7 linked regions of the Homo sapiens genome follow. The protein of the gene in region 6 interacts with the protein of the main gene of each other region in a pairwise test. Each region holds a gene or a part of one and is shown on either strand. Other genes may lie near its edges. The genes, in order: SH3GL1, ECH1, PINK1, MAGEA3, MAGEB6, DNM1L and SIRT3.

Region 1 (3,540 bases), on a different chromosome or scaffold from region 6:
GCCTGAGACAGCCCAGCTGGCAGACTGGTGACCCTGGTCACCCCGTGGCCACCCCAGCAGGGTGCAGGCCAGATTTGATTGGACTGTGGAGCTTTAAGCTCCGGCAGTGCCGGATGAGGTCCTGGCAGCGGGTTTTGGGAGTGGCTCCCCTGCAGAGGGCCCAGGGTCCTGGCCACCCCTGAGTGTCTTAGGGTAGTGGTTCCTGGTTTCCCTCCACCTGGCATAGAAAGGGACTCATTCTGCTCAGCTCTCGGCTAGCTGTGGAGGCTGTGGTGTCCCCATGGGTGTCTGGAACCAGGCAGGGAGGGGCTGAAGTGGGGGCAGGATCGGGAGTGTGCACATAAGCCCCACCCCTCCACACAGCACCGCTGCCCCTGGGAGCCAGGCCCTCGGTTACATACTGCCCCACTGGGTAAGCAGCAGGCTGTGCTGCGGGACCCCAGCCCTGTGCCTCGGTCTCAGGGGGGCTCAGTCAGGATGCTGGACTTGCACGGTGGACTGTGAGGCGCAGGGCTGGCTAGGACCCCCGGGCACAGCCTGAGGCCCAGCCCCCTCGTTTCAGATCTCCTTGGCCAGCAGGACGCCCAAGGACCAGAGCCTGTGTCACGTCCTGGAACAGGTGTGCGGCGTCCTCAAGCAGGGGAGCTGAGCCTTCCAGGGCAGGGTGGGCTCCAGTTGTCTTGAGGGTCCGGATGGGCTCAGGTAATAAAGAAACGGAAGCAGCAGCCAGCCACGCTGGTCTCCCCAAGGCTGGGGTGAGGGTGGCTGGGTGCCCAGGCTGGTACCATCACCCCAGCTTCCTCACTTCCAGGGCAGGGCATTAACTTCCAGGATACCCCTCAGCCCCTGCACCTGGGAACTGGCACAAAAGCCTCAGGGCCAGTCCCACCCACCTTGGGCTCAGGAGCACCTGGGGTGCTGGAGGGACCTCCTGGGGTGTGTGTGGCTTTGGAGCCGGCCCCTCAGGAAGGCGGTGGGTGGCAGGCCCACCCCTGCACCAAGACGAGGCAAGGGGCTGTAGAAAGAGACATTTAATACTTCTGTTTACAAAATTCAGGCGTACATTTCAGTTTGCCCTGGACCGTGCCCAAAGCTGTGTGCTCATCTCTGCGCCCCTCATGTACTTCTGACGAGGGGGGTGCAGGGCAGGGCAGAGCAGAGCCTGGGGTCCGGAGGCTTCACTGGACCACAGGGGGAGGGGAATGTGAATGTGGCCTGGCCCAGAGAACTCCCCATTTCATCGATTTTGCATTGGGCGATAGAGGAAGCAGATGTCGGGGCTGCCTGCCTTGGTCTAGAGGAGATGGCTGGGGCCACTTCCCACAGGGTGAAGTGGCAGCGGCTCAGCAAGGGGAGCCTGGCCACCAGGGGCTGGGACATGCGCTCACTGGAACCTTTGTGCTTGGCCCTCGGCAGCGCGGCTGTGGTCCCGTGTGAGGTGTGCTGGGGTGGGTGTGGGTGGCTGGTGGTGGCAGCTTGTGCCAGAGTGACACAGGCCTCCCTGGGTTGGGATGGGGGCAGTTAAAAAGCTGAAAAGGTACTTGGCTTTCTGAGGGCGGGGCTTGGGAGGCAGGGCCCTGCAGGAGACCATGTTCTCTGTCCTCAGGCAGATCCCAGCTGGCCTCTGTCCCCGGGCTGCAAGCTGACAGCAGGCCCGGGAGGCGGTGAGGCCCTCTGCCCTGGCCTTGAGGAGAAGGAGTGCGTGTGTGAGGCGGGGGTGCATTGGCCCTGGAGTAGGGCCAGGGCCCATCACCAGCACCAGGCTGGGAGGGATTTAAAACCAGGGTCCTATCTCTGAGCCACCCCATGGGGACCCTCGATCCCATCCTGTTAAGGCTGCGGGACTCGAGGGTAGGCAGTGGGCCGGGCCCCCGTCGGGTCAGGACGGAGGTGGGGGCTGCCCCAGAGGAACATTAGTGTTTCTAAGAGCACCTTAGTGTTGCCCCGCCTCGGCCAGCTGGGCGAGAAGTTGGGGAGCGGGGGAGGAGGCTGGCGCCATGGAGTGGGGAAGGGAGCCGTCACCGTTGGGAGTCAGCGCTAGTGTAAACAGGCATCCCCACCCACCCAGATAAGCCCCCCCACCCAAGTGTGGGGTCCTGCTCAGGGAGTACCTCAAGGGCCGGGGCCCAGGTGGCGCCGGCAGGCTCAGACACCGCCCTGGCAGCAGGGGCTCCGTGGAATGCAGGAGACCCAGCAGGGGGTGCCGGCCAGTGTGGACGGAGGGGCGGGGCGGGGACACGGGTGAGTCACTGCGGCAGGGGCACAAGCACCTCCACGTAGCTGAGCGGGAAGAAGCCCGACTGGCCGTCCAGCATGCCCTCGTACCAGTTCTCATCGATCTGGTTGGTCAGCGTGATGACGTCGCCCTCATGGAAGCCCAGCTCCCCGTCGTTCTCGGGCTCGAAGTCGTACAGCGCCTTGCAGCTCGGCTGGTCCAGGGGCGCTGGGGGCGGGAGCGGGCTGTGGGGCTGGGGCTGCTACGCCTCACCCCGCCCAGTCTGGGGTCTCAGACCTGCTGTGACCTGGAGCGTGTGGGTGGGCATGGGCCTCCCCTCTGCCCTGCCTGGGCCACCCCCTGCCCCTGCCACTTCTGGGGTCCGGCCTCTACTGCCACCCAGGAGGGAGGATGGGAGAAGCTTGGTTTAAGTGGTCACCAAAGCTACTCCTGGGAAGTGCTGGGGACACCCGGTGCTGCTGCGGTGACAGGGAGTGACCAGATGCCCTCAAGCCCTTGTAGCCACCACACAGCCTAGAGCTAGCTGGGCTAGTGCCCTTGGCAATCCCTCATTCACACTGTGAGGCTGAGACCCAGAGGGGTGGCATCTTGCAGGCTGTGGGGCCTGTGCCCCCTACTGCTGCACGAGCCTGGCCCCTCCCTGCTTGAGATGGGCAGAGAACAGGGCGGGAGGAGAAACACCCTCCCCGAATGGCCGAGAAGGCAGCACTGAGGTCGAGGCGGGCCTGGGAACACTCACGCATGCTCCGGCTAGGGGTCCGGATGGGCTTGTCGGAAGATCGGAAAGACGATGAAGCTAAACACAAGCAAAACGAGGAGGCTGTGGGCTCAAAACGGTCGGGCAGGGCCCCTTCTGCAGAAGGCTGGGGCCAGCCCTTCCCGTCTGCCTTGGCGGTCCAGATGGAGCACGGCTGAGAGCTGCACCCAGGAGTCTGGCGCTCAGAGACCCAGGACAGGGCCAGCCCTTGGCCACTCCCACCCGCTGGCATTTGCCTCCGCAAGAGGGCTCCATGCCCCATTACCTGCGATCTTGGGGGCTGTGGTGCAGGGGAAGCCCCCGTTGGACTGCTCAGGCTCTCCAAGGTCAAAGGGCTCCCGGGGCTTGGGCTTATACTCCCGCTTAGGGCGTGAGGAAGCTTCCCGCATCCTGTGAAGGGAGAGGCGTGAGTGGACCGAGCCCGTGTCACGGCCGAGGCAGCCCCACTCTTGTATTTATGCTGCTGCCTAATGACCTGGCCTGGGACTGCAGGAAGAGGCCGTCAGTGGGGTTGTGACACATGGACCCTGGGACACAGCTAGACTGG
Region 2 (4,299 bases), on a different chromosome or scaffold from region 6:
ATTCTCCTGCCTCAGCCTCCCGAGTAGCTGGGACTAGAGGCACCTGCCACCACACCTAGCTAATTTTTGTATTTTTAGTAGAGACTGGGTTTCAACATGTTGACTAGGCTGGTTGCAAACTCCTGAGCTCAGGCAATCCACCTGCGTCAGCCTCCAAAAGTGCTGGGATTACAGGTGTGAGACGCCAGCATCAGATCCCATGTGCTGTGCAGTGAGAGGTGCCAGGCAGGGCACGAACGCCACCCTCAACCCCAGGGCAGGCAGGGAGACCAGGAAGCCTTGCAACCCAGAGGGACCCCAGCGACTTTTGCTCACTCCCTCCGCCCCGGAATTCCTTGTGCCCCTCGCCTGCCCGCTGCCAGTCTGAATGGCCATCACCTCCATGCCACCCATTCCCATGCATCCAACCTCTAGCCCCAGCCTTCAGGACTGCAGTCTCTGGAGCCCCTAGGTGCATCCCAGCCCCTCCCACCTCTCCTCTATCCAAGAAGGGCACCAGGTTCTTTACTTTGCTTTATTGTTTGTGGGGTGAAGATAAGGCCTTGGGCTTGAGAAACTCATTGTCATAAAGTTATAAACTGGGAAACTGGGTCAGAAGGCATAGAAACAACTGTCATCGCCCATCCTCCCTTTCTGTGGATGAGGCGGGACAAGGCCGGCCCCCTGGCTGGGGCCTGGGACGCGAGGGCTCTCAGAGCTTGGAGAAGGTGACGGTTTTCAGTTCCTTGTTCTCAGTCGTGGCCTGGACCGACTTCACGAGGTCTTGGGTCTGCAGCATGCTCATGTTCCAGGACGCCTGGTACCGAGGGTGTTGAGAGAGAACGAGGAGAGAGATTAGCAGGGGCCAATCAGGATAAAGCATGAGAGCACCCTGCACCCTGGTTGGTCGCCTGGGGTTAGAGGAGGGCTGTGATTGGTCGGAGCGTGCACCTTACCACGTAGTTGAGGCTCTCGGCCACCGAATGGTCGCGGGAATACAGCAGGTTGACCTTGGTGCTCTGCACCGCCACGGGGCTCTTGCTGGAAATCTCGGCCGCCAGCGCTAAGGCAGCATCCAGCATGACCTCTTTGTCTGGGAACACCCGGCTGCAGTGAAAGAGATCAGGGACCGGGTGGGCTGGGAAGGGCTCTCTCCTCCAGCCTCCCGCAGATGAAGAAGTGGCCACTCACAGAGGAAGGCCCAAGACCCCAGAGAAACAGCCCAATCAGAGCAGGGGGCTGACCCCACAATAAAGAAATGAGCTCACCAAGAAAGGATGCCACTAGGAATTCTAGAGCGAGGAGACAAGGGGACCCGGAGAGGCCTCCAACCCTCCAGGCCTGGCTGCCCCCAGCACTGAGCTACCACGGCCATGGCCCTACCTGACCAGCCCACTGCCCAGGGCCTCGTCAGCCATCATCTTGCGGGCGGTGAAGGCCAGCTCGTTGACCAGGCTGCAAAGGCAAGCGTGCATCAGGAGGCGGCTGCCACCCCGGGGCTGGGAGATGCTCTGGGGTCTCCTGCCCACACCCCCACACCCCCTGCACCCACCTCTGGTTCCCGATGACCTTGGGCAGGCGCTGCAGTGTTCCTACATCGGCAGCCAAACCCACGTCCACCTCCTGGGGGAGGAATCGGGTCAGTGTTTGGTTTCTGCCCAATACTGTGCCCCTCGCAATGTCAACGTCCATGAAATTTCATGTCTACTGGAGAGTCCCGCCCCACCTTCACCCCAGTGACTTCCTCCAAAGTCCCATTCCATTGCCCAGGCAGCTTCTTGACTCAGGCAAGTTCCTTCAACCTAGAATAGAGCCCACCTTCCCACTCATGCACCCTCCCATTCCCTCAGGGCAGCTCCATCTGTGAGAGAGGAACCCTCCTCACCCTACCTGAGACCCCTTTACTGCATCCCCCGGCTCCATCCTGCCTCCCACCCTCACCAGTATGGCCCCAGGAGCAATCTCTGCCTCTGACACCTGCCAGCCTCAACCCCACCTCATACCTTACCCACTCACAACTTCACCTCTTGACTTCCTCTATGGGCAAGTCTTACTTTGTCGGGTTCAACTCCGACTCTTCCATGAAGCCCTCGAGGCTCACTCCAGGCCCCCCAACCTCACCCCACTGCCCAGCTCTAAGCAGGAGCTCGGGAGGATGACTCACCTTCACCTGGAAGAAAGCATCCTGGGCACAGTACCGGATGTCACAGGCGGTGACAAGGTCCACACCTAGGAGGTAGAGGCCAGGGATGCTGAATGACCACCAGAACCAACCCTGGCTCCCGGGAGGTGGGGCTGCCTCTTGGGACACAGTCTGGCCCATGACAGAGCTGAGGCTGGATGCCAGTGGCCGCGGCATCGGAGCAGCAGCCCCACCTGGGGAGCACCCGAGCAGGAGGATAGCCGCAGACTCACCTCCGCCAATGCAGCCCCCATGGACGGCAGCAATCACGGGCTTGGGGCACTGAGAGGGAACAGGAAGAGTGGGGTCAGGGCTGGCCCAGGGGAGGCGCGTATGGAGAAAGATCCCCTCCAGACCCCTAGAGTCACCCTCTCGATGACGTTGAAGGTCTCCTGGTATCGAGTGATGATGTCACGGAGGTACCAGCTGATCCGGGCCACATCATCTCCTTTGGGCTGCAGGATGTCCGAAGCCATGTCCATCAGGTCAATACCTGGTGAGAAGGCATGATGGAGCTCATCCAGGCTCCCAGGCCCCACCCATTGACTCAACCAGGGATCAGAACCCAGGCACAGCAGGTTCGAACCCCCAAACCACCAAGGCGGAAAAAAAACAACTCACACAGGACTTGGTGAGGGATTGATTGCATGTTGGGTGGGAAGGAAATAAAAGCTAATATTTGTGGAGTCATTACTCACAGAATCCTCACAGCAACCGTACCAGCTAGGTCCTATTACTATTTGTGTTACCAATGGGTAAACTAAGGCACAGAGAGGTTAAGCACTTGCCCAAGGGGGTCACACTGGCTGGTGAGTAGTGAGTAATGAACTATTTAAATTAACTCATTAATGTTTTTAGAGACAGGGTCTCACTCTGTTATACCAGCTAGAGTGCAGTGGCACGATCATGGCTCACTGCAGCCTCGAACTCCCAGGTTCAAGCAATCCTCCCACCTCAGCCTCCTGAGTGGCTGGGACTGTGCCGAGGCTGCTCTTGAACTCCTGGGCTCAAGCGATCCTCCCACCTTGGCATCCCAAAGCACTGGGATTACACGTGTGAGCCACCATGCCGCATCAGAAGTAGGATTTTAAAATCTGGAACCATGCAGCTGGCTCCAGAGGCCATGCTTTTCCCCAAGATGCCAGACAGCCTGGGACTCAAGGTCTGCAGCGTGAGCAATGCAGTCAATGGTGGTGATGTTTCCTGAGATGAGAAACATCTCACGATGCAGCAATTTCTGTGGCTCCAACTTCAAGATGATCCTGAATCTGACCTTTCCTGCATCAGTTGTTCTCCATGAGCCCACCCTGCTCTCCCTGTTTCCACCTGTGTCCCCAGTCTATTCCCTACAGGCAGCCAGGGGAAGCCAGTGGACACCTTCTTGGGTCAGATCCTCTTTTTTTTTATTTTATTTTTTTTATTTCAGACAGAGTCTCGCTCTTGTCGCCCAGGCTGGAGTGCAGTGGCAGGATCTCGGCTCAATGCAACCTCCGCCTCCCGGTTCAAGTGATTCTCCTACCTCAGCCTCCCAAGTAGCTGGGATTACAGGCGCCCACCACCATGCCCGGCTAATTTTTGTATTTTTAGTAGAGACGGGGTTTTGCCATGTTGGCCAGGCTAGTCTCAAACTCCTGACCTTGTGATCCACCCACCTCGGCCTCCCAAAGTGCTGGGATTACAGGCGTGAGCCACCGTGCCCGGCCCAGACCCTCTTTTTCCCACCTGTGGCTCTTAGAACAAAATGGAACGTCCTTGTCATGACTACCCTGCATGAACACTGTTCCCAACCTGTTACTTTGGGCACACTGGCCTCCAACTCTGTGTGTGTGTGTGTGTGTGTGTGTGTGTGTGCACTGTTCCCAACCTGTTACTTTGGGCACACTGGTCTCCAACTCTGTGTGTGTGTGTGTGTGTGTGTGTGTGTGTGCGGGCACGTGCATTTGAGCCCAGGAGTTGGAGGCTGCGGTCAGCTATGATCGCACCACTGCACTCCAGCCTGGGCGACAGAGCAAGACCCTGGCTCAAAAATAAAAAATAAAAAGAAAAGAAAATGGCAGGACAGAGAGGTGAAAAGACAAGTGGAAATAGGATCCAGATCACTGCCTGAGGGCTGTGCAGTGGTACAGAATCTTCTCATT
Region 3 (4,050 bases), on a different chromosome or scaffold from region 6:
CTCACTACAACTTCCACCTCCTGGGTTCAAGCGATTCTCCTGCCTTAGCCACCTGAGTAGCTGGGATTACAGGCGTGTGCCACCACGCCCAGCTAGTTTTTGTATTTTTAGTAGAGATGGTGTTTTGTTGGCCAGGCTGGTCATGAACTTCCGGACTCAAGTGATCCACCTGCCTCAGTCTCCCAAAATGCTGGGATTACAGGCTGTGAGCTACCACACCCGGCCAACCAAGTTGACTTCTGATTAACCAGCTTTTAGGGAAGGCCTCTAAGATTTCCAGTTTATCTATTGTTCCTTGTGTAAAAGTATGTACTTACCATAAATCCTGCCCTTAGGCAGATTCACACAGCATTCTTGCCTTTCCCTGGGGGACTGACTTCAAATGTCCGTCACATTCCTTTCCTATAGCATATAGGCCCTGGGTCTTGGGGGTAATGGCATGGGGATCCACCATCTTGTCTCCCTGCCGCTGAAGCCAGAGACTATGGCTTCTGTTCATAAATCCCTTTCTCCTTAAATATGAAGTCAAAGGTCATGTAGATAGGAGCTGCTGCTGAAGAAGGGATTTTTTGTCTGAAGAGTTCTGTCCCCTGGGCTTACTTGGCTATGGGGTGGACCCCTGGCCAGGAGACAGCAAACTGTTTCAGTAATGTGCGTGTCGTGCGTGTGTGTGTTCTGTGGTGAGCAGGCCTATGCCATTAAACAAACGGTGTGGCTTTGGGCAAGCTGCTATCTTGGGACCTCAGCACACTCATTCATAAATTGTGTCTTTTGGGTGAGATTTGTCTTGGGGTCTTCAAAACCCCTGAGACTGTGGACACATACAGCAGCCTAACGGCATTGAGGAGGGCAAGCATTCAACAGTTAGGACAATGTGAACTGTAGCTCAGCTCTGCTAGGTACCTTCACAAGACCTCGAATGCTGCCCCTTACTATGCCTCGGTTTTCTTATCTATAAAAACGGCATTTTTATCTTGTTGGTGGAGCTGTTAAATAAATTAAAAGACGTAAAGGGTCTGGCACCATGGTTGGCAAAAAATATCAGTTTCCCTTCTCGACTTCTCGATTTTGCCCAGGACCAGTGATGTTCACATTCAGGACCTGCCTGAACCGGCAAGCCCTCCACGTGGGTCCAAAGTGCAAAGGGAAAGTCACTGCTAGAGGCGCCAGTACCAGCATAGCGCCCCCACGCGCCGAGTCGGGGAACTGCCGCGGGGGCCGGCCCCGCCCACCAGCGCCTGCGCCTGCGCAGAGGCACCGCCCCAAGTTTGTTGTGACCGGCGGGGGACGCCGGTGGTGGCGGCAGCGGCGGCTGCGGGGGCACCGGGCCGCGGCGCCACCATGGCGGTGCGACAGGCGCTGGGCCGCGGCCTGCAGCTGGGTCGAGCGCTGCTGCTGCGCTTCACGGGCAAGCCCGGCCGGGCCTACGGCTTGGGGCGGCCGGGCCCGGCGGCGGGCTGTGTCCGCGGGGAGCGTCCAGGCTGGGCCGCAGGACCGGGCGCGGAGCCTCGCAGGGTCGGGCTCGGGCTCCCTAACCGTCTCCGCTTCTTCCGCCAGTCGGTGGCCGGGCTGGCGGCGCGGTTGCAGCGGCAGTTCGTGGTGCGGGCCTGGGGCTGCGCGGGCCCTTGCGGCCGGGCAGTCTTTCTGGCCTTCGGGCTAGGGCTGGGCCTCATCGAGGAAAAACAGGCGGAGAGCCGGCGGGCGGTCTCGGCCTGTCAGGAGATCCAGGTGAGCGGGGCCGGGTCCTAAGCCGAGCGGAGGACGGAGCTAAGCGCGGGGGCGGGTCCTCAGCTGGGTGGGGGCGGGGCTAGGTGTGGAGGCGGGGCTCTGAGCAGATCGAGGGCCGAGGCGAGGGTCCTTAAAGCTCATCTATTTCACCATTACTGATCGGCTGCTATAAATAAAGCCAGCACCTCCCATTTGTTTTAATGTTTCCCTTCCTCAAATGAAGACATGTTGCCGATTACAGCTCCTGTCGCAGCACAGCAAAAGGCTTTGTGTAAATTTTCTAAAATGTACGGACAACTAAATCATAACATTCCTATCCCTTTGAGGTAGTTGCCGTCCCTAATTTATGGAGAAGGAAAGTCCTCAGGTGAAGGGACTTGCTCGAAGTCACACAGCTAATAAAATGCAGTGCCCTTAACCACTGAGCCAGGCTGCCTCCGCCGTTTAACCAAAGGATTAGTAGTGACAGAGCTGAAACCGCAGTAAAAACTATGAACGGCGAGAAAAACAGTCCTAACATTTTAGTTACCTGTGTAGAGTTATCCCTGCTGACTGGATACACAAGGGTTCTTAGGGTTTTTTAATGCTTAAAATAGCACAAGACTTCTCTTTTTGCCCAACCAAAGTCTGTATTAGGGTTCTCCAAATGGAATCAATAGGATGTGTCTATATAGAGGCAGGTTTATTTTGAGGACCTGGCTCCCTATGGGGATTGGCAAAGTCTTAAAAGCCGCAGAGTAGGCGGGCAGGCTGGAGAGCCAGGGAGGAGCCAGCGGTGCAGTTCAGGTTTGAAGCCTGGCCGCTGGCAGAATTCCATCTTCTTCCAGGGAGGTCACTCTTCTTCCTGGGGGTGTAGAACCACTCACTAAATTAGCATAGCCCCTGCATTTTACAGGTTAGGGCTGAGGTGGTGGAAGAGGGAGTGACTTGCCCAAGGACACAGCTGTTAGGGCCAAGCAGTGGCTCCTGGGTTTCCTGGTTTCCATCCCAGTTCTTATTGCTCATCACCACTGTCTCATGTTTGAGCTCTGGCCAGTTTGGGGTGACAGGTGACATCTGGCCTAGTCCCCAGCCCCTGACCTTGTCTTTTGCCACAGCTTAACTGGCAGAAGCTAAGGATGGGAAATTTGACTAATCCTGCTTAAAACTAAAGAGGCTTTTTTAACTGAGGAGATTGATCCTCCTAAACTTACCATTCACACACACCTTCTTCGCACACTTCACCCTCCTATGCCTGAAAATGTTATTAGTTATCAATTAATTTCACATTAAAAAAATTTTTTTTGGTCAGGCACTGTGGCTCATGCCTGTAATCCCAGCACTTTGGGAGGCTGAGGCGGGCGGATCACGAGGTCAGGAGTTTGAGACCAGCCTGGCCAACATGGTGGAACCCTGTCTCTACTAAAAATACAAAAATTACCCGGGCGCAGTGGTGGGCGCCTGTAATCCCAGCTACTTGGGAGACTGAGGCAGGAGAATTCCTTGAACCCGGGAGGCGGAGGTTGCAGTGAGCTGAGATCACGCCACTGCACTCCAGCCTGGGTGACAGAGCAAGACTCTGACTGGGGGGAGAAAAAGTTGTTTTCACTGGCTACTTTTGCTGGAATTAATTTCACATTTAAAAAATTCTGGGCCGGGCGGGGTGGCTCATGCCTGTAATCTCAGCACTTTGGGAGGCCAAGGCGGGCGGATCATGAGGTCAGGAGATCGAGACCATCCTGGCTAACATGGTGAAACCCCGCCTCTACTAAAAATACAAAAAAATTAGCCAGGCATGGTGGCAGGCGCCTGTAGTCCCAGCTACTCGGGAGGCTGAGGCAGGAGAATGGCGTGAACCCGGGAGGCAGGGCTTGCAGTGAGCCAAGATCGCGCCACTGCACTCCAGCCTAGAGGACAGAGTGAGACTCCGTCTCAAAAAAAATAAAAAATAAAAAAATAAAAAATTCTGAAGCCAGGCATGGTGACTCATGCCTATAATCCTGGTGCTTTGGGAGGCCAAGGTGAGAGAATCTCTTGAGCCCAGGAGTTGAAGACCAGCTGGGACAACATAGTGAGACCTTGTTCCCACAAAATATTAAAAAGTTAGCTAGGCATGGTGGCACATGCCGATAGTCCCAGCTACTTAGGAGGCTGAGGTGGGTGGATTGCTTGAGCCCAGGAGTTTGAGGCTGCAGTGAGCTGTAGTTGCAACACTGCACCCCATCCTGGGCAACTAGCAGGAGTGTGCTAGTAGCAAGCTCTAAAAATTTATATTATAAAAATATATATATAATGTGTATATATATGTATATGTGTATATATGTTGTGTATACTATAATATGT
Region 4 (4,828 bases), on a different chromosome or scaffold from region 6:
AACCATCCGTTAAAAGGAACATTTGAACAACTCCAACAGGAAACAAAGAATAATCTCAAAGTCATCCAACAGAACAGAAACCCACTACTAAGAATGCTGACTGCTCGCTTCAAAGAGTGAAGAATGGGCCTCACGTCACAGGAGGCAGTGGAAACTAAGGGATGCGGCCCCGGAAGGTGCACTGGCCCAGACCCCCTCCCACTGGCCCTGGCTGCAACTCGTGCTCAGACTCACTCTTCCCCCTCTCTCAAAACCCACTCATGCAGGGGTGGGTAGGAAATGTGAGGTCCTCCACTGATCTTTACCATATGGTGCAGGACTTTCACATAGCTGGTTTCAACGAGGGCCCTTGGACCCCACAGGAATTCATAACATGCAGGATCACTGCCGGGGACCTGCCGGTACTCCAGGTAGTTTTCCTGCACGAAATGTTGGGTGAGCAGCTTCTTGGGATCCCCCAAGATACTGTCTTCCCTCCCCTCAAACACCTCTAACACACTCAGCTCCTCCCAGATTTTCTCCTCAGGGGCACAGTCGCCCTCTCTTGCGATTATGGCCAGGACGATTATCAGGAGGCCTGCCTTGGGCATGATCTGATTGTCACCCAGCAGGCCATCGTAGGAGAGGCCCAGGCAGGTGGCAAAGATGTACAAGTGGCCGATGGGGTCCACTTCCATCAGCTCGATGCCAAAGACCAGCTGCAAGGAACTGGAAGCTTTGCTGAAGATCACAGGAAAGAAATACTGCCAATTTCCGACGACACTCCCCAGCATTTCTGCCTTTGTGACCGGCTCCCTGGCTCGATACTTGAGGAGCAGAAAATGAACCAACTCGGCCACCTTCCTACTGAGTGCTGCTTGGAACTCGGACTCCAGGTCAGGGAAGGTGCTTGGCCCCTCCTCTTCTTGGTTGCTGGAGTCCTCATAGGATTGGCTCCAGAGAGGGTAGTTCATGGTAGTGGGGAGGCTGGAGGCTCCCTGAGGACTCTGGGGAGGATCTGGTGACTCGGCAGCAGGCACCTCCCCCAGGGTGACTTCAACTAGAGTAGAAGAGGAGGAGGCAGCCTCCTGCTCCTCAGTAGCAGGAGCCTGCGCACCCACCAGGCCCAGGGCCTCTCCTCGGGCCTCAAGGCCTTCTTCAGGCTTGCAGTGCTGACTCCTCTGCTCAAGAGGCATGATGACTCTGGTCAGGGCAACAGGCGGGAGTGTGGGCAGGAGCTGGGCAATGGAGACCCACTGGCCTGGGGAGAGAGGGAGCATGTGAGAGACCTCAGCTGAGTACTGAATGGAACCTTGGAGGCTCTAACAAAGGCTTACTTACAGATCTTCTCCTTCAGTGCTCCTCCGGGGGCCTCTGGTCCTCCAGGTCAGCCTGTCCCCTCAGAACCTGAAGGAGGAAGTGAGAGGGCACCTCAGGGTACATCCGGCCAGCGCATGCTGAGGCTGCAGGACTGAAAGTATTGAGGGTGAGGCCAGGCGCTCTGGAGTCCATGTGTTCTGGGGCAGGTGGGGCCCTTGGTTTGAATCCAAGGCAAACCTTCACCGTTGGCACTATCTGAGCCCCCTCTACTCTGTGACCTGAGGACACTGCCTCAGACCAAGTCCTCACTGCCTTGTTCCTGGAGCTCCTGATTCCTGGGAGAGGAATCCACGGGCCCCCAATGTGCAGACAGCAAACGCAGCCACGGATTCCCAGAACTGTCAGGAGGGTTGGCCAGACTCTGTGAGGTCCCCACTCTACTGGGGTGGAGGATCCCCTCTGTGCTCACTCAGGGCCCTCACCTTTCTCCTTATAGGGCCTAATCCCTCCCTTCTGCTGGCCTGAGAATCTCTCATGTCAAGAACTCACATACCTGATATGGTACAGAAAAACATGAGGGGACCCACATCTGGCCATACATTCCCAGGTCCTCCCGGAAAGGACAACGAGAGATGTCCAAATTTATTGAAGTCCATGTACCCTGGGTGAGGAGACTGCTTGGTCCTCACCTCCACTCCTAGTAGGGTCTGAGAGCCTCCCTCTACTGCCCTGAGTGCAGCCCCCTCAGACCAAGGCTTCCCCTTCCCTGACATCAGTGATCCTAGGATAATGGAGGGACCTCAGCTGACAGCCCTGCCCAGGCTCTCTGAGGTAACAGCAGGAGCAGGGCAGATTTTTATGGGGCCCCCAGTCCGCATTCTGTCCCAGGGGTACCCTCAATCCTCCCTCAGTCTCTTCACCTGGATGCTTGGCAGATCCTAGGACCACTGCATCTGTCCACCACATAGGGGCCCCTTGGGGGTACACCTTGGGCCCTGCAGATCCTGGGATTCCTCCCTCTGCTGACCTGAAGTCCCACTCTTCAGACCACAGCCCTCAACTCTCTGGTCACCCTGAAGGCGCAATGAGCACAGAGCACATTTGGCCACTGTGCCCAGCATCCCCCAGCCCAAGGTTGCCACTGATCTGGACTCCAAGGTCCCCTCAGTCCTCCCTCTTCTTCCTCCCCATGACTCCTCGCAGGGCTGGGCCCCAACCCCCTGCTGAAGTGGGTCTGCATCCCTAGGATTCCCGTAGCCGAATGAAAAGGTGCCTCGGTTTGAGACAGGGGTACAGTGGGCCCCCTGTCCTGGCATGCTGGGTCCCCTCAGGACTCCACTGTCTTCCAGGAGGGCCTGGGCCCTTTCGCTGCCTCCCAACGGCCATACTCGCGATACCGAACCCCTTCCCTCCCTTAGCCGTAGATGTGAACCTCAGGACTCACGTGCCTGGCCGCCATTCCCGGAGCTTCCGTGACTTGATACCAGGGGCAAAGCCCGGATTCTGCCAGGATAGGGGTGGGGGTGGGGATGGGAATGGGGAATGGGGGATGGGGGTGGGGTTGGTGTTGGGGGACGGGAATGGTGGTGAGGGTGGTGGTTAGGCTGCCCTCAGTTCCCTCTCGGGGTCCTGACCTTGATTCCTGCCACAGCGTGGGCCCTGACCTCTTCTAACCAGCCCTGCCCTGGCCACATTAAGCTCTGTCCCCAGAGTTCCCCGTGGCTAAAGCGGCGGGGGTCGGCGGGGTGAGGTAGTGGCGACCCAGCCTGGAAGTCTTCCCCTGCGGGGTGGCCCAGGCCCGGCAGCAGAGGCAGCACTGGATTATTTGAGGCCCTCTGTCTGAGGTGAGGCCCGCCTCAGTCCTCCCTCAGCGTCTTACCTTGCCTCCTCACCGAGCCTGGGCCGGCTTCCCTCCGCCGACGTCAGGCCGTCGCTCGTTGCTCAGGGCGAGAATCTCGCGGTCTTCTGACCTCCAATGCGCAAGTCAGTGGCGTCACATCCTGGCAACGGTACTACCCTGGGTTCCGGGCAGGGGTGGAACTGGATTCTGCCTGGATGGGGATCGGATGGGGGTGGAGGTAAGCATGAAGATGGTGATGGGGCAAGGGGTAAGGATTGGGACGGGGGTCCTGAGGCTGTAGATCCTGGTGGGGTCGGGGGAGTTGGGGGTGGGTGGGCGGGGCCTTCGGTCATCCCTCAGGGTCCTGAAGTTGATGCCTGGCTGAGCCTGGACCGCCATCCTCTGCAGATTGCTTCTGCTCCCCTCAGACCAAGTCTCTGACTCTGAGTCCCCCTGAAGTGGCATTGGGGGAAGGGGTGTGGTCTGGGTGACATCACTGCCTGCGTTTACCAGGGCTGACAAGAGGGGCTGAGCTGGATTCTGTGGTCCCTCTATGGTGTGTGGGGTGGGGGGGCGGTGTGGACCCTCAGTCCTCACTCAGGAGGGTCGTCTTCGTCACCTCTGGCTGTTGGATGAAGTGATGGGCAGGAGATGCTCTGTTTCTGTCACCTGTGAGCATTTGCACAGCTGCACCCCTTGTAGAGAATGCCTGCGGGTCCCAGGCCAGGTGCTCCCTGCAGGGCGGGGCGGCAGCTCCCGCGGTTGTAGTGACCTCCTATTTCAGTCTTTGTGTTCTGTTGAAAGAATTTTTTTTTTTTAAAAATGTAATTCCTCTGCCACTATGGTGGTTTCAGGTTGTTATTAGCAGAACTCTGGAGTCATACTGCCTTAACCAACCAAATTTTCCTGGTGTCCTGCTATTACCTAGGGCTCTTGGCATCGTGTTTTCAGAGGCTGCCTCAGATTGTGCAAAGAAGTGAAGTGGAAAATTTCAAACTTTTATTCTACCCATTCTGTCATCTACCGTGTAGGCCGGCTACAAACCTCCCCAACATCCCTGCTGCTAACCCCCTCCAACCAACACTGCAAGTGTCAAACACAAGTACCAGCTCAACACAGCCTTGAGTCTCACCCTGGGCTTTCCCTGTTTTGTTGCGTAGATTTTGTTGCTGATACTGGTTTTTTATTTACTGTTTCCATTCTGTAATTTTCCAGGTTTGATTTGGGAAGCAGAGCACAGCAGCCCAAATTTGTTGTAATGGCGGCGGCTACAGGTAAGGCACTAAATTGTAAATAATTTAAGCTGAGTTTACATTTTTACAGTGTTGTGCTCCCCATGAATGAATATGTTATACTCCTCTATGTATTTCAAGCTTTTTTTTACCTGAATATGTCAGTATACTTCGACAGTTGTCTCTATAAAGACCTTATACATTTTTATTAGACTTCTTTTCAGGCAATTCATGAATTTTGTTGCTATTGCAAATGGCATATTGTCTATTAATTGTTGTAGTTAGTTATTGCTTTCGTGAGGTGAAGATTTTGATTTTGCTGTAGTAATCTGTTGCACTCCTCGTTCTGAAGGCCGATGCACTTGAATATTCCACATACCTTTTCCTTTGAATTTTCAAGATCGATAATGGTATTATCACTAAACATTACATATTCTTCCAGTATTCATACCACTTA
Region 5 (4,882 bases), on a different chromosome or scaffold from region 6:
CAAAACAAACTAACGGCAGTCTTAATAACCTAAATAAATCCAGGTATCCTTTATTTGTATGAAAAGAAATAGGAAAACGAATTAGGCAAACCAAGAATTAAACAACTTTTACATTTCTGTTTTTCCTTTTCTTTCTCTTCATATTATGATGTCAACTATTTTACTGTGGAGTTAAGATTCATATGAAAATCAATTCTCTGTTACCATGTTATCTAGTTCTCAATTACAAAGAAAATGTGTTGTATGACTTTGTTTTATTAATTCCCAAACCGTAACTTTCAGATTGGTTAAACAGCCATGAATGTGAGAGCTATGTTATTGATAATTGTATAATCTGAAGCAAAATAAACCTTCACTTAACAGGAACAATGTTGATAACTGACAGAGATAAAACATAAATCTGCAAGTTACTCATGTGTAACAAAAGAAAGATACATATCTTGTTCCCTCCAGCCTCTACTATACTGCACTACTTAGAAAGCTCACTACTCTCTTCTAACATAAAGTGAAAATTCTACTTCAGACCTCCCTAGAAATGGGAGGATCTGTAGGATATGGCCCCATAAGGTACCCTGGCCAAGGAAATAGTGCCAGCCCTGCCTTAAGCTCTCAGTCTCAATGCTCTCTCTACCTCATCTATCAAAGCGTCTTCATACAGATGTGGGTATAAACCGGGACTGGTGTTACTGCTGTCGGCCAAAACACGCAGGACTCTCATCTTGGTGGTTTCAGCATAGGCTCGTGGACCCCACAGGAACTCATAGCATGGAGGATCACTGTTGCACACCTGCCGGTAAACCACGTACTTATCTTGCACCAAATCTTCAGTAATGATCTTCCGAGCATCCCCATAGATTGAATGCAGGATCCCATCATATATCCCCAACAGACCCAGGAACTCCCAGACCTCCTCTTCAGTGGCACAGTTGCCGTTCATGAAGATCACAACCAGGAGCGACATCAGGAGACCCGACTTCGGCAGCGCATTATCACCACTCAGAATTCCTTCACTGGGGAGGCCTAGCTTGCTGACAAGGGTGTAGGACTCGCCGCTGGAATCCATTTCTTTCAATTCAACGCCAAAGGCCACCACCAAATGTTGGGAGGTTCTGTTGAGGATCTGAGGGAAGTAGGGCTTGTACTCTCTGCGGACACACTTCAGCATGTCTGCCTTCAAAATGGACTCTTTCTTCTCAAACTTCTTCTGCAGGAATTGCGCCAACGTGCACGCCTTCTTCTTTACAGCATCTTTGCTTAAGCGCTTAAAAATGATGGCTTTCTGTGAGGCGCTTACACTTTCCTCATCTTCACCCTCGGCAGCCACATCATATTTTGAGCCTGAAACACCTGCATCAGGCGAGCCAGTGGGTGAAGCTCCCTGAGACTCCTGAGGAACGGAGACATCATGGGAAGTGCTTGGACTTTTCTCATCTTGGCCGTTGGCAGCCACATCATATTTTGAGCCTGAAACACCTGCATCAGGAGAGCCAGTGGGTGAAGCTCCCTGAGACTCCTGAGGAACGGAGGCATCACGGGAGGTGCTTGGACTTTTCTCATCTTGGCCGTTGGCAGCCACATCGGATTTTGAATATGAAACAACTGCATCAGGAGACCCAGTGGGTGACACTCCCTGAGACTCCTGAGGAATGGAGGCATCAGAAGACCTACGACAATCACCCAGACAAGCGCGAGAAGAGGATGAGGAAGAGTGGGACTCTTCCTGCTTCTCTGCAGTGGCCTGGGGACCCGTGAGACCCTGTGGCTGACCATTGGTCTCTTGGCGTTTCTCACAGGTACGGAGCTTACTCTTGTGACCCCGAGGCATGATGGCTGTGGCCTGTGACAGCAGGTAGGAGTGTGGGTAGGAAGACTAGGAAGGCTGGCACCTGGATGGGAGAGAGTGACGTCACGTCAATATCTTCAGCAGAGAGCGACCATCTTGGCTTTAACTAGGGCCCCTTCTGCAGGTTTCCGCAGAACAGCTGCTCTAGGAACCCACAGGACTCCTTTTCTCCTGGTCAGTTTGTCTCCTTCAAACTCAGGAGGAAGTTAGAGTATTAGACTATAGCATGACAGCCCATTTTGGGGCTTACTGAGGTGACAGCAGGGGCTGGCAGTGGGGGCCCCTCTGTTCAGGGGTTGGATCCTCTCTGTTTACATTCAGGATCATCATTAAAACTGGAAACCATCATTCTCAGCAAACTATCGCAAGGACAAAAAACCAAACACCGCATGTTCTCACTCATAGGTGGGAAGTTAACAGTGAGAACACATGGACACAGGAAGGGGAACATCACACTCCGAGGACTGTTGTGGGGTGGGGGGAGGGGGGAGGGATAGCATTAGGAGATATACCTAGTGCTAAATGACGAGTTAATGGGTGCAGCACACCAGCATGGCACATGTATACATATGTAACAAACCTGCACATTGTGCACATGTACCCTAAAACTTAAAGTATAATAAAAAAAAAATTGTTGACAAGACCCAGAGGCCCATTTCCTTGTGCCACTCTGAAATTGACAGTAGGAATTTTAACCCGGAGGAAATAAGGAAGCACTTCTGCCCAACACTTCATTCCGGGGACACCCAGACCACCTAGGGCTGACAACAGCGGAGGCATTTGAGTGCTCTTCCAGTTATAGTGAGAATGCTCCTCACAGTAATTAGACTCCTCACCCTGACTCTTCCCACAACCTGGAAATCACCCTCACTGACCTGCTGCCATCTCCTTACAACCAGGGGCCTACCTCTCTGACTCTCACAGGGACAAAGTGAGAATGCACCTCAGTCTCTAGAGACCTGCCCGGACCCCCAGGCTAACGTCAAGGGCAGAGTTCGGTGCAACCCGTTACGGGACATGGAATCCCCTCCCTCAATTCTAAGGAGGGTCCTCTTAACTATGTAGGGCCTGAGATTTCTCCCTCTACTGACCTGGGTCCACAAGCCTTGGACCGAGGCCTTCATGTTCTTCAACACGACGGAAAAAAATGAATGGACTTTGGGCCTAACAGCCATGTTTGGGGACTCCTCAGGGACCAGGTCGGGGCAGGTTGGGGCAGGGCTCTGTGGAGCCGCCTTTCTTCGGGGGAAGGGGGTTGAAGTTGTCGGGGAATGCCCCCCGTTCTAGGTCAGGATACCCACCAAGACAGCTGAGAAGATCTGGGACGCCTCCTTCCGCTGACGTGACAGCACTTTTCAGGCTCAGGCGACCGGCTCAGACCCCTTTATTAGGTGGAAGTCAAGAGGAACCACTTCCGGCCACGCCCACCTGGCGCTCCCTGCGTAACAGTAGCTGCAGGGCTCTGTTACTCCCCCTTGTGTTCTGTGGGTGCAGCAGATTCCAGGGAACTCACGTAAAGTTCTTTCAGGGGCTCTTCGCGGACCCTTGGACTTCTCTATCTGTTGAGCTGAATCAGTCAACCGGAGATAGAGGCTCTCATTCCCTGAGAGTCCAGAGTTGGAAGTAAGGTGCAGCCTGAGCTCGGGAGCCATGCCGGGACCTTCCAAGACTGACAGTAGGGGTGGAGCTCTGTGAGACCCCCTTTTTGGAATGGACTTTGCCCTCAGCCCTCACTCAGTGTCGTCGCTTCATTCTTGCCATGTCCCCTCTACTGACTTGAGGACACCCTCTCAGACTAGACTTCAACTTCCTGAGACTCCTCATGTGCAATTCAGTTACACCTCACCTGGCCACTACTGCCTGGGGCCTCCTAAACCTGGCTGCTGCTATTAAGTTGTGATGCAAGATCGGGGAATGAAGGGAGATTTGGGGGGCACTCTTGTCTCTTCTGATATGTGGAGCCCCTCAGTCCTCACTCAGGGTCCTCACATTGACTGCTGGCAGGGTCTCAGTTTTCTCCATTTTCTGATGTAAATTCATCCCCTTCCTCTGACTAGATCCTGTAAAATTCATAAGGAGAAAGTGAGAAGACTTCTTAGCCTGATAGCTATGTCTGGGACTTCTCTCTTGGCTGACATCAGTGTCTGTATTCAACACCTTCATGAATGAATTTCTACCATTATCTTGTGTGACTCACTGCAATATTTGCTATCCTAATTTAGTCCATTCTTTATATTATATTAAAATAATACGAATTTAAAGGCCAGTCCACTTCCACTAAAGAAGTTTCAGGTAGTTATTAGCACAGTGTCTGGATTCATACTTCTTCAGCCTACCCAGATGTTTTTGCTGTGGCAATATTACCCCATGGAACTGGCACATAGGGTCCAAGTTTCTGACTGAATTTCCTTTAGTGAAGCAGAAAAAAAAATGCATTGTCCAATGGCACAGTGAAAGAAGCAAAGACCAAAGTTTTAAAGCTTTTCCTCTAGCCAATTCCGTTATCTGCGTCTGTTGTAGGCCACAGACCTGTCTCTACTTCAGCTCATGCCCCTACCTGCCCACACACCCATTCTTGTTCAATACAAACTGACCATCTCTCAAGGTTCGCATTTTTGTTGTTTTGCTGTTGTTAATACTGCTTTTTTTTTAAAAAAAAATTCTTCCTTTAACTTTTCTATGGTTGAGTTTGGTCATGGGAAAGAACCACCCGGGTTTGGTTGTCATCTTCACAGCTATGGCTAAGGCAATGAATCTGTAAAAAATTTAAGGAGAATCAATAACTTTACAATATCTCCTCCACAGTAAATAAACATAGTACACTGCTTTATTGGAGATTTATTTTTCCTAAGTCTTTCAGTAAATTTTTATAGCTGTCTCCTTAATGAACATGTACATTTCTATTTGGTTTTCTGTTAGATATATTTTGGATATTGTTGCTGTTGTGAAAGGCATATTTCACATTACATATTATAATTAGTTATTGATTTTGTGTGACTATACTCCTGACTTACCTATGGTGATCTTTTGTACACACGT
Region 6 (4,362 bases):
CAGAATCCAACGTATAGTTATTTCTACAGTGAATAGAAATAAAAGACATTCTATTTCTTTGTTTTTCCATCTCCCTTTCCTGGTAAATAAAACACATTCTAAGGTAAGAATAGATAATGTGAAAATTACAAATTTTAATCAGTTCCTGAAATGCAAAGTGGAAATGAAGTCATCTCTAGTTCTAGCCACAAAACTAAATTAACTGTCAAAATTTTCGTAATTAAAACATTTTAAAATCACTTGTACATTCATTCTAGACTACGTGATGATGTAATGTCAACCACCCCAATAAAAACAGAGACATCTACTCTTCAGGAACCTACTATATAAGAAACCATAAGTGAAGCTGTTAGGAACAGTATGAAAATGTAAGGAACTGAAAATGAACCCTCTCAGACACCAATTGGTAAAAACAAACACATCTCATTTCCAAAAGGTAAAAAAATTACCTGTTTAGAGTCCTAGCAAGATACTTTGTTCCATTTCTATTGGCCAGAGATGGATATTTCTTTTGAAGAAAAGCATACTCATCACGGATTGAATCAGTTACACTCTTCTTGTTGTTAATATCTAGCTGGCTCCTGAGGTTGAAAAAATAACGAAACTATTCAGCTTAACTGTTGTCCTCTTCCTACCTTAGATGATGACAGCACCAGGCATTGTTCTCTAATACCTGACAGGGACTGTTTTATTTAATTCTCACAATAATTTTATGTGGCAGGTATTATTACCCCATTGTATAGCAAGGAACTGAGGCTCACAAAAACTAACTTACCCCAGGTCACACACTAACTGGCATAGCCAAGACTTGAACTAAGTGAATTGTAAGTAACTAGTGCCTAAATAGAGTAGGCCTCATTATTACCATTAACTATAGACAAAAACAATAAGTAACAGGTATAGACAGGTATAAAAATATAAGAGTATCTTAGTCAACTGTATATTTTATCCATGGACAGGGAACTAATTTCTCCCAAAAATAATTAAGTTAACTTGAAGAACAATCATCTACAAACAACGAACAGTGTTAGGCCACCTCCTTACCTGAAAAAGGAGACAGCTGGAATTGGGAGTGGGGATGGGAGAATGACAGTGGGGATGGGAGAATGACAGTAGGGTTGGAATGGAAGGACATTAAAATAGAAGCAGACAACTGGAATGGATCTTATGTATCAGGCAGTAAAAACATTTTCATTTTCTAAAGGCTTGAGACCCAAAGACATTAGGTGTCATTTAAACCTACGTTGTATCTAGTTTATGTAAGAACTAGGACTATAACTCAGATTTCATGATAATTTCAGTGTTTCCTACCATATGAAGGCTTTGGACTAAAAGAGATATTCATCCGAATCCAGCTCTTTCACTACCCACGTGACTTTTGGTTAAATGTATAACCTGAGGTTTCTGATTATAAAATAGACATCAACACCTACCTCAGGGGATGCTGTGAGGATTCCAAGAGATACCATTTGCAAATTGCTCACAGTAGAGTGTCTAAAACGTAATTAGACACTCAATAATAATTTCCTTTTCCCGATTTTTAATACCAACTATTTATAATTAGGATACCTTTAATAAAATTTCTCCAAGTCACATCCTGGCAATTACACAGAATCACTAATGCTAGGGATTAAACCAATCTATTAAAATCTTGTCACCTTTAATTAGACACTCAATACTAGTTTCCTTTTCCCAGTTTTTAATACCAACTATTTATAAATTAGGATACCTTTAATACAATTTCTCCAAGTCACATCCTGGCAATTACACAGAAGCATCACTAATGCCAGGGATTAAAACCAATCTATTAAAATCCTGCCACCTTAAACTCTTTCTCGATTGGGTGCACATTAGATAATTTTTCCCTTACCCAGTACCTCCTCATACATAGCTTAACATGATAGGCAAGAATTCTTAAAGCCTGGCTATTACAACATTTCTTCCATTTTGTGGTATTGCTTACTTTAGAAACATTTTCCAGTAAAAATGTCTATGGGGCAGGCACAGTGGCTCATGCCTGTAATCCCAGCACCTGGGAAACCAAGGTTGGAGGATTGCTTGAGCCCAGGAAGTCGAGACAAGCCTGGGCAACATGGCAAGACCTTGTCACTACAAAAAAATTTAAAATTAGCCAGGTGTGGTGATACACACCTATAGTCTCAGCTACTTGAAAGGCTGAAGTGAAAGGATCACTTGAGCCCAGAGGTTGATGCTACAATGAGCCACAATCACGCCACTGCATTCCAGCCTAGGCAACAGAGAGAGACCCTATTTCAAAAAAAAAAAAAAATTCTCTCTCTTTTCTCCCTTTAGGGCAACGGATTCTTTAGCAATACCAAGATCATAATAAAAGGGAGAAAAAATATAGTACAGCATCACATTTCAAACAGATTTTAGAAATTCAGACTTGCTCTGAAGTGAGAATGCTTATCCCATTCTAAGAATGCTTATCCCAATTCTTATCCCATTCTAACTGCTAACCTGTTAACTACTCCAATTATTCCAAGTTTGACTGGAATAACCCTTCCCATCAATACATCCATGGCATCAGTACCCGCATCCATGAGATCAAGTTTAGTGATTACAGCTAGGGTTCTGCGACCTGGTAAATGCAAAAAGAAAAAAGGGCAAAGAAAAGAAAGAAAATGATCCATTAAATACAACTATTTAGTGTTAATAAAGGAAAACCCTCATCTACAATCCCACTTAGTATTACCTCTGTCATCATTTTGGTAATGCCTTACTTACCAGTGCTTTTTTAAAAATAATGTTAAACATTGTGTATAATTTTTTAAAACATTTTTGCCGGGCACGGTGGCTCACACCTGTAATTCTAGCAGTTTGGAAGGCCAAGGCGGGTGGATCACCTGAGATCAGGAGTTTGAGACCAGCCTGACTAACATGGTAAAACCCCATCTCTACTAAAAATACAAAAATTAGCCAGGCACAGTGGCAGACGCCTGTAATCCCAGCTGCTCGGGAGGCTGAAGCAGGAGAATTGCTTGAACCCGAGAGGCAGAGGTTGCAGTGAGCTGAGATCGTGCCATTGCACTTCGGCCTGGGTGACAGAGCAGGACTCCATCTAAAATATATATATATACTATACATATAAAATATATATACTATATTATATATAAAATATATATAGTATATATATAAAATATGTATAGTATATATATAAAATATGTATAGTATATATAGTATGTATAGTATATATTTATAATATATATACTATATATATTATATATACTATACATACTATATATACTATATATAATATATATACTATATATACTATATTTTATATATATATAAAATATATACTATATTTTATATATATACTATATATAGTATATATAAATATATATAGTATATACTATATATAGTATATTTATAAAATATATATAGTATATACTATATATATTTTATAGTATATATATTTCAGTTACAAATATATATATCTACCTAGGTATATATATTTTTTATATATATATCTACCTAGGTATATGTATTTTTTATATATATATCTACCTAGGTATATGTATTTTTTATATATATATCTACCTAGGTATATGTATTTTTTATATATATATCTACCTAGGTATATGTATTTTTTATATATATATCTACCTAGGTATATGTATTTTTTATATATATATCTACCTAGGTATATATATTTGTAACTGAAAAATGCCATAGGTAAAATTGTACACTATGCAGAGCAGGACTCCGTCTAAAATATATATATATACTATATATATATAATATATATACTATATATTTAAAATATATATAGTATATATTTAAAATATATATAGTATATATTTAAAATATATATTATATATTATATATACTATATATTATATATAGTATATATATTATATATACTATATATAATATATAGTATATATAAAATATATAGTGTATATATAATATATAGTATATATAAAATATATAGTGTATATATAATATATAGTATATATATACTATATATACTATATATAAAATATATATAATATATACTATATATTTTATAGTATATATAAATATATATAGTATATACTATATATATTTTATAGTATATATATTTCAGTTACAAATATATATACATAGGTATATATATAAAATATATATAAATATATAAAATATATATATAAAATATATATATATACCTATGTATATATATTTGTAACTGAAAAATACCATAGGTAAAATTGTACACTATGCAGAGCAGTTGGAACTCTCACACGTTGCTGGTGGGAGTGGTGTAGTCATTTTGGGAAACAGTCTGGCAGTTTCTTATAAAGTTAAATTAGCAGTCCCATTCCTAGGTGTTTAACCATGTTAAGTGAGAACCAGTGT
Region 7 (3,268 bases), on a different chromosome or scaffold from region 6:
ATGCCATTTATTAATGTATCCATTTTTTTACCTTGTTCCTCTTAAAAGAAGCTTTGAGAGCTGTATGAAGAAGCCTGATGGCACCGAGCTAGGCCTCTCTAGAGGCTGGGTGGGGAAGACCATGGAGAGACGTAACAGTAACTCCTGCTCGGGGGCACCAGCTCGTCTGGGTGCCCGATGCTGGTGGTGGCTGTCAGAGCAAGCAGGGCTAGCCAGAGGAGATGGACGAGTCTGTGCTGTTGTCCCTCTGCGTCATGCTGGGAGACAGCGAGGTGGGGAGGACAGGGAGAACAGAACGTGCTCACAAAGAGGAGGCAGGAAGGTTGGATCCCTGATGAGCCTTGGAACGGAGGTGGGGAAAAGCAAGGATGTGTGGAAACAGCAAGAAGTGGGAGAGAGAGAGAGAGGCGGAGGGGAGAAAACCGTCACGGAGGCCAAGCGGCAGGAGCTCAGCTGAAGAAATGAGATTGGTGGTGGGTTTTCCCTATATCGCAGGCTCTGACTGCCAATCTGCTGCTCCTCCAAGGCCTCGGTGGCTGTGGCATGAAACATCCTGAGGAGCTTGTAAAGTGGACACTGTGCCCCTCACGTTTGGCCCATTTTTCAGGTGGAGCCTTTTGCCAGCTTGACCGAGGCCGTGCGGAGCTCAGTTCCCCGACTGCTCATCAACCGGGACTTGGTGGGGCCCTTGGCTTGGCATCCTCGCAGCAGGGACGTGGCCCAGCTGGGGGACGTGGTTCACGGCGTGGAAAGCCTAGTGGAGCTTCTGGGCTGGACAGAAGAGATGCGGGACCTTGTGCAGCGGGAAACTGGGAAGGTACAGACTGCTGAGGAGGACCATCCAAGGGGCTGCCCTTCTCACTGCTCTAGGGTATGGTCCACCTGATATGGAGCCCCGTTGGTTAACACAGTAACAGTAATAGCTGATGATGCTGTGAATCCTGCACCAGGCACTACCTGGACCTGACTGGGTGTTACTTTCAATACCTCCATTTAGAGATGAGGAAACAGATGCTAACAGGCCAAGCAGGGACACGGTCCAGACACTCAGGGCTGATGAGTCTGTATTCTTAACAGACTATAGGCGTTACCTTCACTCCCTAAAATAAAGCAGCCAACAGTGTCCCTCTAAGGCCTGGTATGTGATTCTAAGATGATACGGGTTAAAGAACTTTGAGAAGCTAAAGTTCTCTGCATCTATGTGGGATGAAGGCTACATGAGTGATGCTTTTCGGAAGTAATTGGTATGAGAGCCATTGATCAATTATAATCCGCTGAGGAAAGCCAAAGAGCCTTGATGCTTTCTAAGAGATTTCAAACCGCCTATAAACAAGTGAAGTTACAGAAAATGCAGTTTCCCATAAGAATCATGTAGCATGTGTAGCCTTGATATTAAGGGTTTTCAATGGGAGGTGGTAGCATTAAGCATTTAAAGTCCAGTGTCATGATTACAGGCAGGTGTAACACTGTCCAAAGGGGATTTCACCAGTGTATTAGTCTGTTCTCTGGCTGCTCATAAAGGCATACCTGAGACTGGGTAATTTATAAAGGAAAGAGGTTTAATGGACTCACAGTTCCATATGGCTGTGGGGGCCTCACAATCATAGTGGAAGGCAAAGCAGGAGCAAAGTACTGTCTTACAAGGTGGCAGGCAAGAGGACGTGTGCGGGGGAACTGCCCTTTATAAAACTATCAGATCTTGTGAGACTTATTCACTATCAGAAGAAGAGTGTGGGAAAGACCCGCCCCCATGATTCAGTTACTTCCACTTGGCCCCACCCTTGACACATGGGGATGATTACAATTCAAGGTGAGATTTGGGTGGGGACACAGCCAAACCATATCAACTACAATATATCACAGTTGATGCTCCTCTTGCCTTCCAAGGCAGATGTCTTAGGAAATCCTGATCCTTTTTCCTTGTCCACAGCTGTGGCTGCCTCATGGCTCAGGGCCATGGGGTCAGCACTCTCCTCACCTCCACCAGTCCAAGACCTCCAACCTCTGGTTGCAGGCTGATTTTTTACCAATCATGGTCACTTCATTATGGAGGCAGGGAACCCAGCTAACAATGAGGCTTAAACGCTGAGAGGCGAGTGCCTCCTGGCCAGCTCACAAGGCAGCGGAGATCTTAGATCAGCCCAGCAGGCTTTTTTGAGGGATCCTTTTCCTGCTCCAACTTCATATTTTCTTTTTTTTGTAATGGAGTTTCACTCTTGTTGCCCAAGCTGGAGTGCAATGGCACGATTTTGGCTCACTGCAGCCCTGCCTCCTGGGTTCAAGTGATTCTCCTGCCTCAGCCTCCTGAGCAGCTGGGATTACAGGCATGTGCCACCATGCCTGGCTAATTTCTGTACTTTTATTAGAGATGGGATTTCATCATGTTAGTCAGGCTGGTCTCAAACTCCTGACCTCGGGTGATCCACCTGCCTCAGCCTCCCAAAGTGCTGGGATTATAGGCATGAGCCAGCAGGCCCGGCCCAACTTCCTGTTTTCATAGAAAAGCAGATTGTAACTCTGGTAGCTCCTGTGGAGTTTTGGAAGTGGCTTAATAGGATTTGAACTGTATAATCTAGTTTCAGAGAAATGTATGTAAAATGGGTTATGATTTCATTTTCTGTTTTTTACAGCATTACTATCCAAGGGGTTACTTTTCCAAATAGTGAATGCTTTTAAGCACATGAGCATCAGTACATATTGATTTGGGTACTTTAAGACCCATAGAATGAGGCTCTCCATTTAGCCACCCTGTTCTGCCCAGGCCTGCTGGGATCCTCTTAGCCCAGCACAGCAGCAGCAGTATTTGCAGAAAGCAGCTTGTTTTGTGAAATATTTTGCATGTCTGCAGCTAGAGCTGTTTGAACAGAGATCTGCTGGCCTGCCTGGGTGTGTAAACAGATAGCTGATACCCTCTGTCTTCTGTATTCCAGCTTGATGGACCAGACAAATAGGATGATGGCTGCCCCCACACAATAAATGGTAACATAGGAGACATCCACATCCCAATTCTGACAAGACCTCATGCCTGAAGACAGCTTGGGCAGGTGAAACCAGAATATGTGAACTGAGTGGACACCCGAGGCTGCCACTGGAATGTCTTCTCAGGCCATGAGCTGCAGTGACTGGTAGGGCTGTGTTTACAGTCAGGGCCACCCCGTCACATATACAAAGGAGCTGCCTGCCTGTTTGCTGTGTTGAACTCTTCACTCTGCTGAAGCTCCTAATGGAAAAAGCTTTCTTCTGACTGTGACCCTCTTGAACTGAATCA

The links.
Region 1: the proteins of DNM1L (region 6) and SH3GL1 interact in a two-hybrid assay, tested with the Homo sapiens proteins (one study listed by BioGRID and IntAct).
Region 2: the proteins of DNM1L (region 6) and ECH1 come close enough for resonance energy transfer, tested with the Homo sapiens proteins (one large-scale study listed by BioGRID).
Region 3: the proteins of DNM1L (region 6) and PINK1 come close enough for resonance energy transfer, tested with the Homo sapiens proteins (one study listed by BioGRID).
Region 4: the proteins of DNM1L (region 6) and MAGEA3 interact in a two-hybrid assay, tested with the Homo sapiens proteins (one study listed by BioGRID and IntAct).
Region 5: the proteins of DNM1L (region 6) and MAGEB6 interact in binary tests that used the Homo sapiens proteins (3 or more experiments, as listed by UniProt).
Region 7: the proteins of DNM1L (region 6) and SIRT3 interact in a two-hybrid assay, tested with the Homo sapiens proteins (one large-scale study listed by IntAct).

What each region holds. Positions count from the first base shown.
Region 1 is NC_000019.10:4,359,354-4,362,893, forward strand, and holds the end of SH3GL1 (endophilin-A2), read right to left. Parts: intron 3,384-3,540; coding exon 3,259-3,383; intron 3,033-3,258; coding exon 2,976-3,032; intron 2,444-2,975; coding exon 2,247-2,443; 3' UTR 1,017-2,246; downstream 1-1,016. Other genes in the region: MPND (MPN domain-containing protein), read left to right, coding at 563-649. UniProt on the Homo sapiens protein: Implicated in endocytosis. May recruit other proteins to membranes with high curvature.
Region 2 is NC_000019.10:38,814,922-38,819,220, forward strand, and holds the end of ECH1 (delta(3,5)-Delta(2,4)-dienoyl-CoA isomerase, mitochondrial precursor), read right to left. Parts: intron 2,655-4,299; coding exon 2,530-2,654; intron 2,444-2,529; coding exon 2,395-2,443; intron 2,209-2,394; coding exon 2,144-2,208; intron 1,603-2,143; coding exon 1,532-1,602; intron 1,435-1,531; coding exon 1,363-1,434; intron 1,087-1,362; coding exon 936-1,086; intron 797-935; coding exon 692-796; 3' UTR 501-691; downstream 1-500. UniProt on the Homo sapiens protein: Isomerization of 3-trans,5-cis-dienoyl-CoA to 2-trans,4-trans-dienoyl-CoA.
Region 3 is NC_000001.11:20,632,208-20,636,257, forward strand, and holds the start of PINK1 (serine/threonine-protein kinase PINK1, mitochondrial precursor), read left to right. Parts: upstream 1-1,250; 5' UTR 1,251-1,341; coding exon 1,342-1,728; intron 1,729-4,050. UniProt on the Homo sapiens protein: Serine/threonine-protein kinase which acts as a sensor of mitochondrial damage and protects against mitochondrial dysfunction during cellular stress.
Region 4 is NC_000023.11:152,697,180-152,702,007, reverse strand, and holds the start of MAGEA3 (melanoma-associated antigen 3), read right to left. Parts: upstream 3,215-4,828; 5' UTR 3,179-3,214; exon of another isoform or gene 2,934-3,178; intron 2,803-2,933; exon of another isoform or gene 2,744-2,802; intron 2,703-2,743; exon of another isoform or gene 2,220-2,702; intron 1,451-2,219; exon of another isoform or gene 1,387-1,450; 5' UTR 1,321-1,386; intron 1,241-1,320; 5' UTR 1,176-1,240; coding exon 231-1,175; 3' UTR 1-230. UniProt on the Homo sapiens protein: Activator of ubiquitin ligase activity of RING-type zinc finger-containing E3 ubiquitin-protein ligases that acts as a repressor of autophagy. May enhance ubiquitin ligase activity of TRIM28 and stimulate p53/TP53 ubiquitination by TRIM28.
Region 5 is NC_000023.11:26,190,790-26,195,671, reverse strand, and holds MAGEB6 (melanoma-associated antigen B6), read right to left. Parts: upstream 3,233-4,882; 5' UTR 3,145-3,232; intron 1,887-3,144; 5' UTR 1,826-1,886; coding exon 602-1,825; 3' UTR 26-601; downstream 1-25.
Region 6 is NC_000012.12:32,716,883-32,721,244, reverse strand, and holds part of DNM1L (dynamin-1-like protein), read right to left. Parts: intron 2,603-4,362; coding exon 2,482-2,602; intron 582-2,481; coding exon 450-581; intron 1-449. UniProt on the Homo sapiens protein: Functions in mitochondrial and peroxisomal division.
Region 7 is NC_000011.10:216,381-219,648, reverse strand, and holds part of SIRT3 (NAD-dependent protein deacetylase sirtuin-3, mitochondrial), read left to right. Parts: intron 1-48; exon of another isoform or gene 49-607; coding exon 608-817; coding exon of another isoform or gene 818-871; intron 872-2,930; coding exon 2,931-2,951; 3' UTR 2,952-3,268.